Homo sapiens: one gene and its partner. The protein of the gene in region 2 binds, or shares a complex with, the protein of the main gene of each other region. Each region holds a gene or a part of one and is shown on either strand. Other genes may lie near its edges. A codon is read from its position in the direction of its gene.

Region 1 (7,028 bases), about 11 Mb from region 2:
CCCACTGTCTCTTCAAGGAGGCCCAGAAAGGAATAGGGATTTGCCAAGGGCCCTATACACCAGACCCGGAGTCTGCAATCCCAGTCAGCCCAAGCTTCCCAAGACCACTGGTCCCTGGAGCAGGTTGGGCAGGGCCCAGCCTCAGAGAAGGATGAGGGGACAGGGGCTCACACTACAGACACCGCAGCTCTCAGGCACCTGGAGGCCTCAGAGGATTGGCACCAACCACCTGGCACAGATGGGGAGACTGAGGCACAGAGCACTTGGCTATGGTCTTGGGGCAAGACAGGTTGAGCTAAGCCTGGGATCTAGACCTCCAGACCCTGTCCTGGGCAGCTTCTCACTGACCTGAAGGTAACACAACAGCAGCTAAGGAGAGATCAGAGGCGCCTGGAGGAGTTCAGGAAGGTGTCCTGTCACCAGCAGCTCTGATGGCCTCAGGACAAGTACCTGCCATTCTATCACCACAGAAGCCCATCTGGAAGGTTGAACAATCCTCATCTTAAACAGATGGGGAAACTGAGACTCAAAGGGTTCAATGGTTGGCCTAAGGCTACACCTGGAGCACTGGACTAATGGCCATGGACCCAGAAAGGTGGTCTGCCTGGGGCCCAGATCACTGATGAGCACGAGATTGGTCACAGCGTCAGCAAAGCAGACAGAGCTCAGGCAGCCCCCGAGGCCCTGCCCCCAGCTGCCCAGCTGGCAGCTCCAGGCTGGCCCACTGGGGGGCAGTGATCACAGCAAAGGCTGACCTCATACCCTGCAGCCCTTTCTCACCCAGGCCCGAGATGCCATCTGGGCAGGAGGAGCCCAAAGCAGGGGCTGAGCTCAGAGGCTGATCCCTGAACCAGGTCAGCTGAGGGGCAGGTGCAGTCACAATCCACAACAATCAAAACGAAGCAACTCCATGTCACACAATAATCATCTGGACAAGAAGCAGGAAGAAAAAGATTAGGTTATTAGGTTGGACCATATGAAATTGCCAGTTTTGCAGATAAAAAAATGGTTGAATACTGGCAATTTCATATGATCCAACCTAATATAAAACGGAAAAACGTACACATGGAAAAGTAAGCATGTTATTTAGAAGTACCAACAGAAATAACAGTAAGACTTTAGGTAGCTATTCTTTTCCCCTATAAGCCTTAACTTTGCAAACTACATACATGTATTCCATTGATAAAAATAAAACTTCGGCGAGGTGCGGTGGCTCATGCCTGTAATCCCAGCACTTTGGGAGGCCGAAGCAGGCGGATCACCTGAGGTTGGGAGTTCGAGACCAGCCTGACCAACATGGAGAAACCCCGTCTCTACTAAAAATACAAAATTAGCCGGGCATGGTGGCGCATGCCTGTAATCCCAGCTACTTGGGAGGCTGAAGGCAGGAGAATGGTTTGAACCTGGGAGGCGGAGATGCGCCATTGCACTCCAGCCTAGGCAACAAGAGCGAAACTGCGTCTCAAAAAGTAATAATAAAAAATAAAGCTTCAATTAAAACAAATCAGCCAATAAATCAATGAATCAATACATCAATGGGGGGGGGGAGATAAATCTTCCTTCCAGAAGAATTCCAAACAATGTAGGTAGTTATATCCCCCTCCCATAGAAGGAGCTTAATTCTTGTCCACTCTGCATCTCCTAAGCCTAGGGGGGTCTAGACTTGGTTACTCACTTCCTCCTGAGGAGCAGGGAAAGGGAAAAGAGTAACTTTACAGTGGAGAGACCTGGCCAACACTATCTTAACCACGTGGTGGAGGTTAACATCAGCTTGAAATCACGTGGCTAGCATGTAACCCCAATAGATGTGATGAGAAGGGCACTTTGCCTGGGGTATTCTTTCTAAAAACCCACAACCCCAGGATAGTCCTAAGAAAAGCATCAGACAAACCTAAACTGGGGGACAAACCTAAATTGGGTGACATTCTACAAGATACCTGGCCAGCGCTCCTCAACTGTCAAGGTCATGAGAAGTCAGAAAAGACTAAGAAGAAAAGCAGAAGACACTGGGGAGATGTGACCTTACATGTAATGTGGACCTCTCGATGGGGTCCTGGTAGAGAAAGAGGCTGTGACTGGAACAACAGGAAATCCAAATCCATTCTAGTGTTTCAGACTAATAGTAACGTATCAGGGTGAGTGTCTTAGTTTTGACAAACACATCACGGTAAAATATAAGATGTTAACAACTTAGGCAACTAGGTGGGGGCTTACAGGAACTCTGTTCTATCTCTGCAACTTTTCTATAAATCTAAAGTGATTCTAAAATAAAAAGTTTATTTAAAAAATAAATGAACTAGCTGGGAATGGTGGCTTGTGCCTGTAATTCCAGCTACTCGGGAAGCCGAGGCAAGGGGATCCCTTAAGCCCAGGAGGTCGACCTGGGCAACAGAGCAAAACTCCAGCTCTTGAAACAGGAAAAAAATTAACAGCAATGACCTATTGTTGTATGTAACAAACTCAAAATATTTTGCTGAGTGAAAGAGAGCTTTGGCAAATGTACACAAAAGATTTGCACTTTTCCCTGTATAATAAATTTTACATAAGAAAATGATACACATGCTGAAATATTTAGCAGGAAATGTACTGATGTCTGCATTTCAATTTGAAATACACTAAAAAAGTAAGATGGACTGAGGGATGATGGAAGAAGTACCTGAAGATGTGAATGGTGGACTCCCGCTGGTGGGTATGTATATGGGTGTCCAATGCTAAAGCTGTCAACTCTGCTGTGTGTGTGGAAATCTGGAGGATAAAGGGGGTGGCGGGAAGAGCCCTGTGAGCGGCTTGGGCACACAGCCCTGGGTGTCATCAGTCCTGAGTGAGCACCCTGCCCCCAGGGAGAGGACACCAGGCTGGCCGAGAGGCCTGGCCCTTTCAGAGGGAAGCCTGTAGCCAGGACAACCTCTTCTGACCTTGGGGCTTTCCATTTGGGCCGTGAGGAGAGCAGGGATTTCCCAGAGGCCCTAGGGTGCAGCCAACACAGCAGCTGCAGACCCAGAGCCCCTTTGCCCAGTCTGGACAGGGGCGAGTTGGGCAAGGGGCTGTGGAATTTGCATGGGCGAGTCAGCGGCTGTGTGATATTAAGTCTCTTCCTGTCCCCTGGGCTGCATTTTCCTCATCTGGAAAATGACAGTAATAGGCTCTAGCTTGTTACCAACAATGCTGGGCTCCTCTAGTTTTTTTTTGAGACGAAGTCTCGCTCTGTCACCCAGGCTGGAGTGCAATGGTGTGATCTCAGCTCACTGCAACCTCCGCGGTTCAAGTGATTCTCCCGCCTCAGCCTCCCGAGAAAGCTGGGACTACAAGCGTGCGCCACCACCCCTGGCTAGTTTTTTCTTTTTTTGTATTTTTAGTAGAGACGGGGTTTCACCATGATAGCCAGGATGGTCTCGATCTCCAGACCTCATGATCCGCCCACCTCAGCCTCCCAGTGCTGGTATTACAGGCATGAGCCACCGCGCCCGGCCGGGCTCCTCTAGTCTTTGTGCCAGTTAGGACCCCAGAACATGTCACTCTGTGTCCTCAGGTCTCTGGATCCCACCCAATGTGGCTGAAATACTGCCTTGCCAATCCCCTTCTCAGACTTGCCCTCTTCTCTTCCTGCAGCCACCTCTCTGGACACACACACACACACACACACACACAGGTGCACACACACGCACACTCACACTGCTCACACATGCACACACAGGTGCACACACATACATGCACGCTTGCACTGCTCACACAGGCTCGCACTGCACTCACACACAGGTGCACACACACAGGTGCACACATACACGCATGCTTGCAATGCTTAGACACACATGCTTGCACACACACATGCTCGCACTGCTCAGACACGCTCACATTGCACTCACAGGTACACATACACGCACACAGGTGCACACATACATGCAAGCTTGCAATGCTTAGACACACATGCTCACACACACAGATGCACACACATACACGCACGCTCTCACTGCTCACATGCTCGCACTGCACTCACACACACACAGATACACACACATACACGCACGCTTGCCTGCTCAGAAGTTCCCTGGCTCCCCCTGCCCTGCCCAGCAGCGCTGCAGCTCCCACCTATCCCTCAGAGGCTCATCTCCTGCCAGGAGTCTTCTCTAACCCTGCATTGTTACATGGACCCTGAAGTGAAGTCACTGCCCACTGGCCTCCCAACCAAATGGGGCTGCATTTGCTCCAGTTCTATGGCCCCAGGCCCGGCACAGGGCCAGCTCTCTCTGAGTTGTTTGCTGGTCTGTACCCTCTCAGCGCTGCCCCCAGGGACGGCTCGGTCCACATTCCTCTCTATGGCAGCCATGAGGGCTCCAGGGCCGCCTCCCTCTGGGACCATGATGAAGAGCTCATGGGGCAGCTAGCTGATAAAGGGGTGACCAGGGACAGACAGGATGAATCAGAAGTAGAACGAAACCCTCAGAACATGCTCTAGTGCAGGGCAGGATGGAGAGACAGGGAAATGAATATCTTCTGAGTGTCTGCCCTGGTCCAGGCCCTTTAACAAAAAAACAATATTGTCCCTTTCCAACCCCCCAGGGTAGGGCTGACAATGCCTACTTAGAGAAGGGAAGCTCAGGGGTTATGGGCCCTGCAAAAGGTCACATGGTAGGAAGTGAAGAGTTAGGGGCCAGTCCTGCCTGTCAGAGGCCCAATCCTGAGTTCTTCCACAACCCCCTAGGGTCTGCACCCACATGAACTGAGTCCTGCTACATGCCAGGCCTGTGCTGACACCTCAGGTACCTTTACACCCTGCGGAGTCTGCTCTCCCCAGTTCACAGCTCTGTCACTCAGTGGAGAGAGAGAGAGATTGACTTTTTTTGTAAAAAGCCAGTAGAGGTTGTTAATACAGTGTGTCTTGAAACTACTGGGCTCAGGACAGCAGCCTTGTCCACCACCAGGGCTGCAGATTCCTAGAGAAGCAGGTGCTATCACCCAGGCATGTCCTGGTTCCCCAGGCCTCCTGCTGCTGTTGGGGACACAGACACTGACATTTGACAGTCAGCCCACGCTGGGGGGAATGCATGTGGCCGTCACAGTTGGCAAAGTGCAGCAGCCTCTGCCCACCTGCCTGGGATCCAGGAAGCTGGGAGGCAGAGGAGGCTGGCGGCCGACTGTGGAGCTGGACAGCACTTTGGCGTAACCTGGCAACCCACAGGCCGGAGCGGACATTATGTAGGAGGAAATGGTGGAGGAGAAAACTCCACCCTCCAGCTCTGAAGATGCAAAGTAACAAGTGAAATCTCTGGACCTCAGTGTCAGGGTCTGAGAGGTCACAAGGTGAGACTGAGGATGAGGCTACAAGTAACTGTCCCTTACATGGCACTTTTCACTTACATGGCACTTTTCCCACATTCAGTCCTCAAAACCACCTTCCCAGTTTGAGGAAACTGAGGCCACCACCACCTCCCCCAGATTTCAACCTCCCCTAGCCTCGTCCCTGGTGCCCTGGATGCCAGGCTCACACCTCTTACCTCTGCTCTTCCCAGCAGTGAGGTTTTCAGAGCATGGATCTGATCACATTTATCCTCAGCTCTTAAAGCCAAAGGTGCAGTCTGGACCTCTGCATAAGAGGCCCTTGAAGGCCTGTGGTCTGACCACTGCTGTCTGAATTGCCCTCATTCCCTCTCAAGTGGTACAGCCAGTCCCACTGAGCTCCCAGCAGCACGGTGTTCCTCCTTTGCTCCCTCCTTCCTCCTCTCTCTCTCTCTCTCTCTCTCTCTCCCTCCTTCACCCCCACCCAGGTCTTGCTACCTAAAATCATAGAACCCAGTTAGATCCTACCCATCCCTCAGGACCCCACTTAGAGGCCACCTTCCCCAGGAAGCCTCCTTAACAGCCCAGCTCTGGGCTCCCAGCTCGTCAGGCTGCCCTGTCCTGCCCATGTCTTTTCCTTTCTCTCCACAGACCGAGGGCTCCTTGGAAGTACACCTCTGTCTCATTCACCCCTCGCAGAGTGCCTGGTGAATAGTAGGAACCTAATTAACATTTGCAAATAAATAAATTAGCTTCCCAGGAGTTACGGGATGTGCCTGAGGCCAGCGAGCCAGGACAGACAGGGCTGGAGTCGCTATAGAGTTTGGGCTTCCAGAGCCCTGGCCTTCTGTGGCCTTTGTCCTGCTGTATGTAGCCTGGGCTCTTCCTGTCACTCTGGTTGTTGGGGAGGAGAATAGGCTGGGAAGGGCCTGTGAGGGACAAGCTTGGGATGCTCAGTGCTGGAAGGACAAAGGAATGAACTAAGACCTTGACAGAATTACACTAGTTGGGAAAAGCAAAGTAAACACGCACATCCAGCAGGATGAGGACAAGGGCTCCAGGTTGGCCACAGGCACCGCATATCGGGAGCAACGAGCCTTCCCACACACAGACCTGGGATCTTGCACAGCCCAGGCCACACACAACCGGCAGGAAGAAACCTGAAATGGGTCTCGAGCCAACCCCAAATGGGGGCTACACACCACTCAGCCACTAATGACCCACCCAACACGTCTCCAAGCATTTCCTCATAGGTCCCATTTCCCAGAATGACACACCAGGCCAACTGAGAGGCAACTCCGGGAGACAGGATTGTGGTTTCACCTGTGTTGCAGTGAACAGTGAGTCCCAGGCAGGGGACAGGCAGCATGCAGGAGGTTGGTGTCAGACCTCGGGCTTCAGGCCTCACTCAAAACAGAAAGGAGAATGGCCAATGCAAGGCCAGCCCAGTATCTGAGGGTCTGCAGTACAGGGAGGGGTCAGGGCTGGCCCCTCATGGCAAATAGGCAGTGGCTTGAGGAGTAGGGTTCCAGATGATCCAGATCCTGCTTGGAAGGGTGGGTGGTTGGCCAGGTGCGGCAGCTGACACCTGTAATCCCAGCACTTTGGGAGGCTGAGGCAGGAGTTTGGCTTGAGCTCAGGAGTTCGAGCTCGTAACAACATAGCAAGACCCTGTCTCTACCAAAAATTTAAAAAGTAGCCAGGTGTGGGGGTGTGCCTGTAGTTCTAGCTACTTGGGAGGCTGAGGTGGGAGG
Region 2 (7,028 bases):
CTTGGCCAGTGCTGCCAGCCGACCTTTCTGTGGTGATGGAAATCTTTTTCTGTGCTGTCCAATACAGCAGCCACCGACCACTTTTGCTTATTGAGCACCTCAATATAGAGGTGGCCACTACAGGTGAGGAAATGAATTTCTAAGTTAATTCAAATTCAAATGCCACATTTGGCTCGTGGCTCCTGTACTGGACAACACAGCTGTAGGCCCTGACCTGGTCCAGGGCACTTTGGTTCAAAAGCCAACTCTGAGGAGAGCAAGTGGCAGAAACAGCCCTTGGGCTCCCCTCCCCAGAGAGAAACGGCAGCTGCAGCTGCTGGAAAGGGCAAGAATCAGAGTGGGGGGACACCTCGGGCGCGCCGGATAAGGTTGGCCAGCCGCTTGGCCAGGCCACCTGTGCGGGGCTCCTCGATGTGGAAGGTTCGGGTGAGGAGATTGTAGAAGGAGCCATAGCACACGGCCACCACAGTGCACGTGAGGCAGATCACGTTGTAGGGCATGCTGAAGTCCGGTGTCGGCAGGTTCACCAGCAGCGGCTCCGTGTAGAGCCGCACAAAGTAGTTAGAGCCATCAGAGACTGGGAACCTGGGGTCAGGGGAAGAGCGGTGAGACAGGACTGGCTGCTCCTCCCCATCTCACCCCATCCTCATTCCGGCAGTATTGGGCAATGCAACACAGTGTTTCCAATGTTCTCTTAGGCTCAAAACCTTTCAACAGAAGGCATAGCTCAATCTCTAAACCTGATAAAGGGGAGCGGCGGGCGGGGGGCAAGGGGAGGGAGAGCATTAGGACAAATACCTAATGCATGCGGGGCTTAAAACCTAGATGATGGGTTGATGGGTACGGCAAACCACCGTGGCACATATATACCTATGTAACAAACCTGTATGTTCTGCACATGTATCCCAGAACTTAAAGTAAAATAAAAAATAAATAAGAAAGAAAGAAAGAGAAAGAAAGAAAGAAAGAAAGAAAGAAAGAAAGAAAGAAAGAAAGAAAGAAAGAAAGAAAGAAAGAGAAAGAAAGAAAGAGAGAGAAAGGAAAGAAAGAGAGACGCCTGGTGTTGAGGTGGAGGAAAGGGGCCCCGCCTTTGCTTGGTTGCTTCTTTCTTAGCCTGGTTTCAGCCTAAATGCCACCTCCTAAATGAAGCCTTCCTAGATAACCCAGTAAATCAATTCCTACCCAACCTCTAACCCCATTACTCTCTAGACCAGAATCTTCCTTCTAGACTGTAAGCAAAGGGAGGCCAGGGCCAAGTCTGTTTTGTTTAATCTTGCACACTCAGTGCTCTCAGAAGCACTTGGCATTTGATAAGTGCTTGATTAAATATTTAAGAGCATCAAGAAGTAAATGTAGGCTGTAAGTAAAAGTATTCTTCTAGAAGCACTTTAAAATCATTTTATAAAGTCTTCACAAATTCCACAGACTGCCAGGATTTTTATTAGGATTGAATTAAATCTACACATCTCTTTGGAAGATGTAACATCTACCCTGAACTCCCCTGCAGGAGCCTGGTCACCTGTGTTAAGGCCCAGCAGGCAGCTGAGGATGTGTTATCAGTGAGTGTGGTCACACTTACAGGCTGTTGAAGAGGGGACTCTCTTCCCAGTCCACTGGCTTGGCTGCTACCATGCTGGGCACAAGGGCGCTGAGGACAGATGGGCTACAGAGAAGCAGAGAGATGGCCCGTGTTCCCATCTGGCTGCCCTATCAAGGGGTAAGCAGCAGAAAGGGTAGGTCAGGGGGATGAGAGGTGGCCTGTGGGGGTGGAGCCCACCTGACATAGAAGCCATGGTTAGGATCTGGCGTGTACTCGGTCCACTTCAGCAGCGCCCGCTCAAACTGGATGGAAACCTTGGTGACTGAGTTGGCCGGCAGCTGAATCAGCATCTCCAGGAGGTGGGGTTGCAGCCGGTCCTGGGCAGGCTGGTAGTGGATGTAACCTGGAGACATGCAAGGTCACCCACATCTCTTTCCTGGGGTCAGGCTACCTGCTGCCCCTGTCCCTGCTGCTTGCCATGGAGCCTCAATCTGGGTGCCTAGAAGATGGGCTTGGGAGCATAGAAGCCAGGCAGGCAAGGGAAGAAAGCAGGGGCTAAGAAAAGGGAGAGGATGTTTCCAGGGCAGTGATCCCAGGATGCGATCAAGAGAGGTTGTTAGGAGTGCTGCAGATGGCTAATCAATCTTCACATCACTACAACTGGGGCACCAGACACCAAGTGCCTGATGTGACGCAAGAAGAAGTTCACAGAACCACCTGGGAATTTTTCTTGCCAAAAATGTGGGACATGAATCTAATCAGGTTTCTAAATCTAACCACCAACACACAAGAAATATAGGAGAGGAGGGGTGTGTTAAACACTAGCACAAGGACAAACCCAGAATGTGGAACATTCTACACAACAAATGACCCAGTTTCTTCAACAAATAAATGACATTAAAAAAAAAAAAAAAAGGCATGGGCACTGCTACAGATGAAGAGAGACTGAAGAGTACCACACCAAAGACAAGACATTTATAATAAGGGACATTCTGGGTGTGGAGACAGGGAGTATATGGGAACTCTGTGCTTTGTGCTCAGTTTTTCTGTAAACCTAAAACTGCTCTAAGAATAGTCTAGTAATTTTAAAGAAAAAGAAACTTTTTTTTTTTTCGTGACAGGGTCTCACACTGTCGCCCATGCTGAAGTGCAATAGTATGATCATGGCTCACTATAGCCTTGACCTCCTGGGTTCAAGTGATCCTCCCACCTCAGCCTCTTGAGTAGCTGGGACTACAGGCGTGCAACACCACCCCCAGCTAATTAAAAACAATTTATTTTAATCCCAGCACTTTGGGAGGCCAAGGCGGGCAGATCACAAGGTCAGAAGATCGAGACCACCCTGGCTAACACAGTGAAACCGCATCTCTACTAAAAACAGAAAAAATTAGCCAGGCGTGGTGGCACGCGCCTGTAGTCCCAGCTACTCGGGAGGTGGAGGCAGGAGAATCGCTTGAACCCGGGAGGTGGAGGTTGCAGTGAGCTAAGATCGCGCCACTGCACTCCAGCCTGGGTGACAGAGTGAGGATCCGTCTCAAAAAAAAAAAAAAAAAAAAAAAAAAATTTTTTTTGTATAGGTAGGGGGAGCCTCACAATGTTGTCCAGGCTGGTTTCGAACTCCTGGACTCAAGTGGTCCTTCTGTGTTGGCCTCCCAAAGTGCTGAGATTACAGGTGTGCACCACTGTGCCCACCCAAGAGAGGAACTTAGTATAAAGCAAATGCAATGTGAGAACCTTGTTTATCCCAATTTAAACAAACCAATTATAAAAAGACATTTTTAAGACCACAGGGGAAAACAGAAGTGGTAATGATACGGTTACATTTTTAAAAATCCTTAAAGTATTTAAAGGTTAATTGATGCAATGTCTAAGATTTGCTTTAAGATATGCCAGCAGGCAGCGGCTTACACCTATAATCCCAGCACTTTAGGAGACTGAGGCAGGAGAATCGCTTGAGGCCAGGAGTTTGAGACCAGCCTGTGCAACATAACAAGACCCTGCCTCTGTGAAAAAATTAAAGGCATGGCGGTTCATGCCTGTAGTCCTAGGGAAGCGGAGGTAGGAGGATTGCTTGAGCCGAGCAGTCTGAGACTGCAATGAGCCATGATCATGCCACTGCACTCCGGCATAGCTGACAGAGCAACAGTCTGTCTCTTAAAAAAAAAAAAAAAAGGCTGCAGGGTGTGTACAGGGGATTATTACACTATTCTGTTTGGGTTTGGGTTTGAAATTTTCCAAAGGAGAAGATTTAAAAGAATAATAACAGAAAAACCTATAGAATATGCAGTTAGGATGTCTGAAATAGAGATTTTGAAGGTGGTACAAATAATGGTGCTGAAAATAAGTGAAACTATTCACCGTATGTTTGAAAATATAGGAATCAACTAAAGTACTGAAAGGTTTTTAAGTTTGGCCGTTTGGGATATGGTACAACCTCTTCCTCAGAGGTCTTTTACTTTACTACTAGTCTCCCCCTACACCAAAGAAAGGCAAGTGCTTTAGTGCTATGCCTGGCACCTAATAGGAAGCACTAATATTATCTTCTCCTTAGAAAAATAATAGAAAATAAAAATAAATTTTAATAAAAATAGAAATAAAAAAATTTAATTAACTGTACCTCTTTACCCCTCCCAAGGAAGCAAAACACCATCTACTCCAGCTCTGCTATCTTCCTAGCTTCAAAAGCCTAACGTTGCCAAACCCTTTCCCTACCTTAAAGAGTCTATGAATCATCACAAAACCCAATGCTCCAGAAAGGAGGCAAAAGTAAGTGAAAAAGGAAGCTACTGTCCTTGTACAGTCCTATTAAGAATCACCAGTATTATGTGTTTTAATTATTGCTGTTTTATAAATTACTTCTGAACCTGGCACAGTGAGGCTCCCGTTCCAGTTTTGAGAAACTATTCCTTACTCTTTATGCCTGTGTAGCTTTTCAGAGGTACTTCAGGAACTACCCTGGGAAATGAGAGTTTGGGGGACCTGGAGAGGACATGAGAGGGCGGGCTGGGGGCCTGGTTCAGGACTCAGGTCCTCACTTGGTTTGTTCTCCTTGCCCTTGGAGGTGATGGTGAGGGTGTGCACATACAGCCGCAGATACCAGGGTACGGTGTCCAGCAGCAGCACCGGGAAGGCCCGGTATGGGTGGGTGTTGTACAGCAGTGTGCTCAGCTCCCCCTTCTGCAGCCCATAGCCACTCACGTACCGCTGGGCATGCAGGAAGGGCACTGGGGGGGCCTCTGTGTAAAGAAATATCAACAGTTAACAGCTGCCAAAGGTAAGAATCACTCCCCACCCCACCTGCCCAGGCCATGTTCAGAGTCCCAAGCCAGTGAGTAGATGGGGAACAGCCCTGCCACTGAAACTGGGCAATCTGGGTTCTGGAATCATCCCTGTCTTCCCCAGCCAACAAGCGATGATGACAATAGGTTGCTAGTATTGAAGTGCTTACGTGACGAACACCGTGCCCCCTTCGAACCCAATCCAGGTCCTCTCAGGATATTCTGCTCTTTCCCTTGGTAAGGGAACTGAACACAACTGTAATTAATTAACTGACACCTGCCCTAGCTAGTAGACTTATATTTCTTGAGTGCAGTGTCCTCTGTCTTATTCAACACTCTATGCCTGGCACTTAGTATGAATTCAAAAGTATTTGGTTGATTAAGCAAATGCATGAACTAACTCCATTTTTCACATCATCTCATCCAATTTGCTAAGTATACTCTATTTTTCAGATGTGGATGCTGAAGCTTGGGGAGTTTAGGAACCTACCCAAAATCGTAGAGCTTGGAATAGCTACAGTCAGCAGCATATGACTCTGGAAATCTGGTCTAAATACAACCCAATCATCTAACGGCAAAGACGTGGGATTGTGAGTCTTTTCTCTGTAGCCGTTGCAACCCAGCAGTCCAACCAACCACCCACTCACCATTCTCTGGGGGTCTCTTCCACTTGAGCTGGATGTTGAGGTTTCGAGAGTTGTTGATCATGGCGGTGTCAAGCAAGTCATAGATGGCATAGGTCTTCCGAGTGCCTAGGATGACGTCCTGATATGTAGTGGTCGGGGGTGGGTGCACCTCTAATGTCTCGTTGTCCTGGGGACACAAAGGCAGGGCTAAGAAGCAAGCAGAGAGGGTAGGCTGGTCCTGGGGACCAGCGGTGTGTTTGTGTGTGTGGCTGGAGACCTTGTTACCTGGTTGTAGGTGGTGATGTCCACATAGACTCGGCTCTCTGAAGCCAGGGGGCAGGGCTCCGTGAGGGTTCGGGAGAACATCCGGAAGAGGGACCAGTCTGAGAAACAGAGCGCAGGGCTGAGCAGGGGCCAGGCCTAGGCCTAGTCCACATAGATAAGGCAGGGCTGGCATGGGTGGGTACAGATGAGTTGCCAAGGTAACTTACCTTTCTTTCCCTGCCCCGTGATGAAGGCATCAAATACAACTGACAGGGTCTGCCTCAGCTCCCAGGAGATGCTAGTACAGCGTGCATTCTATCACAAGGGCCAGATGGCAGCAGTGAGGGGGTATCACTCTCACCACACAGCCCCCAAAAAGACTCCTACTCAGACTCAATCCCTCATCTATGTATCTTCACATCCATCGATTTGCTACCACCCACTCCTGAGCACTTGACCTCGTGCCAGACCCCGTGCTGACAGCTGTATGTGCATCAGTTTGATAAACTATCACAACAACCCTAGGAGTGGATTCTACTATCAATGTCATGTGGCAGGGTGGGAAACCAAGCTCAGGGGAATGAAATGATTCACCCAAGGTTACGCCAGCTGGCAAGTGACTGAGCTAGCAATTGCACCCGCATAGCTATTGTTCTGAACCACTATTTTCCATGACAAATATTTATTCAGTGCTTGCTAGGCAACCACTGTTTTCTTGGTGCTTGGCCAATGCCCTGAATAACCGTCATCACATCTACCACTCAGTACTCACTCAGCCTGAGCCAGACACTGACCACATGCTTTACATGTACCTTCTCTGAGCCCCTGGATGGCAGCTTCCTCTACTCCCCATGACTTACTCTGCAAACAGGGCGGATATGCACTGCCTGGGAGTGGTAGCTGGTGTGGAACAAGCGATCTGCCTTCAGCAGCACAGAGAGGCCTGCCTGGAGGAGATGGAAAGAGATAAGAGAAGCCCTGTATGGAGCACTTGGCATGGGGCGCAGGTTCTCTATACACCCCCCGCCCCCGGCTGCCAGGCTCTGCGGCCTCACCTTGGAACTACAGGGCAAGAGCTTCTTCCAGGGGGTGAGGTTTTCGGTGCAGACCACCTCCCGCGGCAGCACAGCATAGCGCAGAAAGTAGTGGTCAGTGTCTGAGGGAGACAGAGGTCTGTCTGGGGTGGGCCTTGGGCTCTGACCCCTCGGGATCCACATTCCAGAGATGGGAATGACCCTCCTGCTCCCCACACCACCTCTAGCACCACAGTCTGGACAGTCCCAACTGGGAGTAGGACTCCCTTCTCTCCTTGGGAAAAGG

What was found.
Region 1: the proteins of PIGT (region 2) and PIGU are in contact, whole or in part, in a cryo-EM structure (PDB 8IMX), measured with the Homo sapiens proteins. Residues at the interface, in NP_057021.2 of Homo sapiens: Tyr361 (codon at 4,729), Gly362 (codon at 4,726), Leu363 (codon at 4,723), Gln364 (codon at 4,720), Lys365 (codon at 4,717), Arg394 (codon at 4,630), Leu395 (codon at 4,627), Tyr396 (codon at 4,624), Val397 (codon at 4,621), His398 (codon at 4,618), Tyr416 (codon at 1,932), Pro418 (codon at 1,926), Ala419 (codon at 1,923), Gln420 (codon at 1,920), Asp421 (codon at 1,917), Arg422 (codon at 1,914), Gln445 (codon at 1,845), Glu447 (codon at 1,839), Leu450 (codon at 1,830), Leu451 (codon at 1,827), Lys452 (codon at 1,824), Trp453 (codon at 1,821), Thr454 (codon at 1,818), Pro518 (codon at 518), Thr519 (codon at 515), Pro520 (codon at 512), Asp521 (codon at 509), Phe522 (codon at 506), Ser523 (codon at 503), Met524 (codon at 500); in NP_536724.1 of Homo sapiens: Glu30, Lys42, Arg43, Val45, Glu46, Ser49, Leu50, Leu53, Val55, Ser59, Gly60, Ala61, Val62, Pro265, Asp266, Leu267, Pro269, Leu273, Trp275, Tyr276, Phe277, Phe278, Ala279, Glu280, Met281, Phe282, Glu283, Phe289, Phe293, Asn296.

Annotation. Positions count from the first base shown.
Region 1 is NC_000020.11:34,562,088-34,569,115, forward strand, and holds part of PIGU (GPI-anchor transamidase component PIGU), read right to left. Parts: intron 1-7,028. UniProt on the Homo sapiens protein: Component of the glycosylphosphatidylinositol-anchor (GPI-anchor) transamidase (GPI-T) complex that catalyzes the formation of the linkage between a proprotein and a GPI-anchor and participates in GPI anchored protein biosynthesis.
Region 2 is NC_000020.11:45,419,131-45,426,158, reverse strand, and holds part of PIGT (GPI-anchor transamidase component PIGT isoform 1 precursor), read right to left. Parts: intron 6,865-7,028; coding exon 6,764-6,864; intron 6,687-6,763; exon of another isoform or gene 6,656-6,686; coding exon 6,569-6,655; intron 6,024-6,568; coding exon 5,936-6,023; intron 5,828-5,935; coding exon 5,730-5,827; intron 5,632-5,729; coding exon 5,466-5,631; intron 4,777-5,465; coding exon 4,576-4,776; intron 1,944-4,575; coding exon 1,778-1,943; intron 1,664-1,777; coding exon 1,580-1,663; intron 650-1,579; exon of another isoform or gene 586-649; coding exon 333-585; 3' UTR 1-332. UniProt on the Homo sapiens protein: Component of the glycosylphosphatidylinositol-anchor (GPI-anchor) transamidase (GPI-T) complex that catalyzes the formation of the linkage between a proprotein and a GPI-anchor and participates in GPI anchored protein biosynthesis.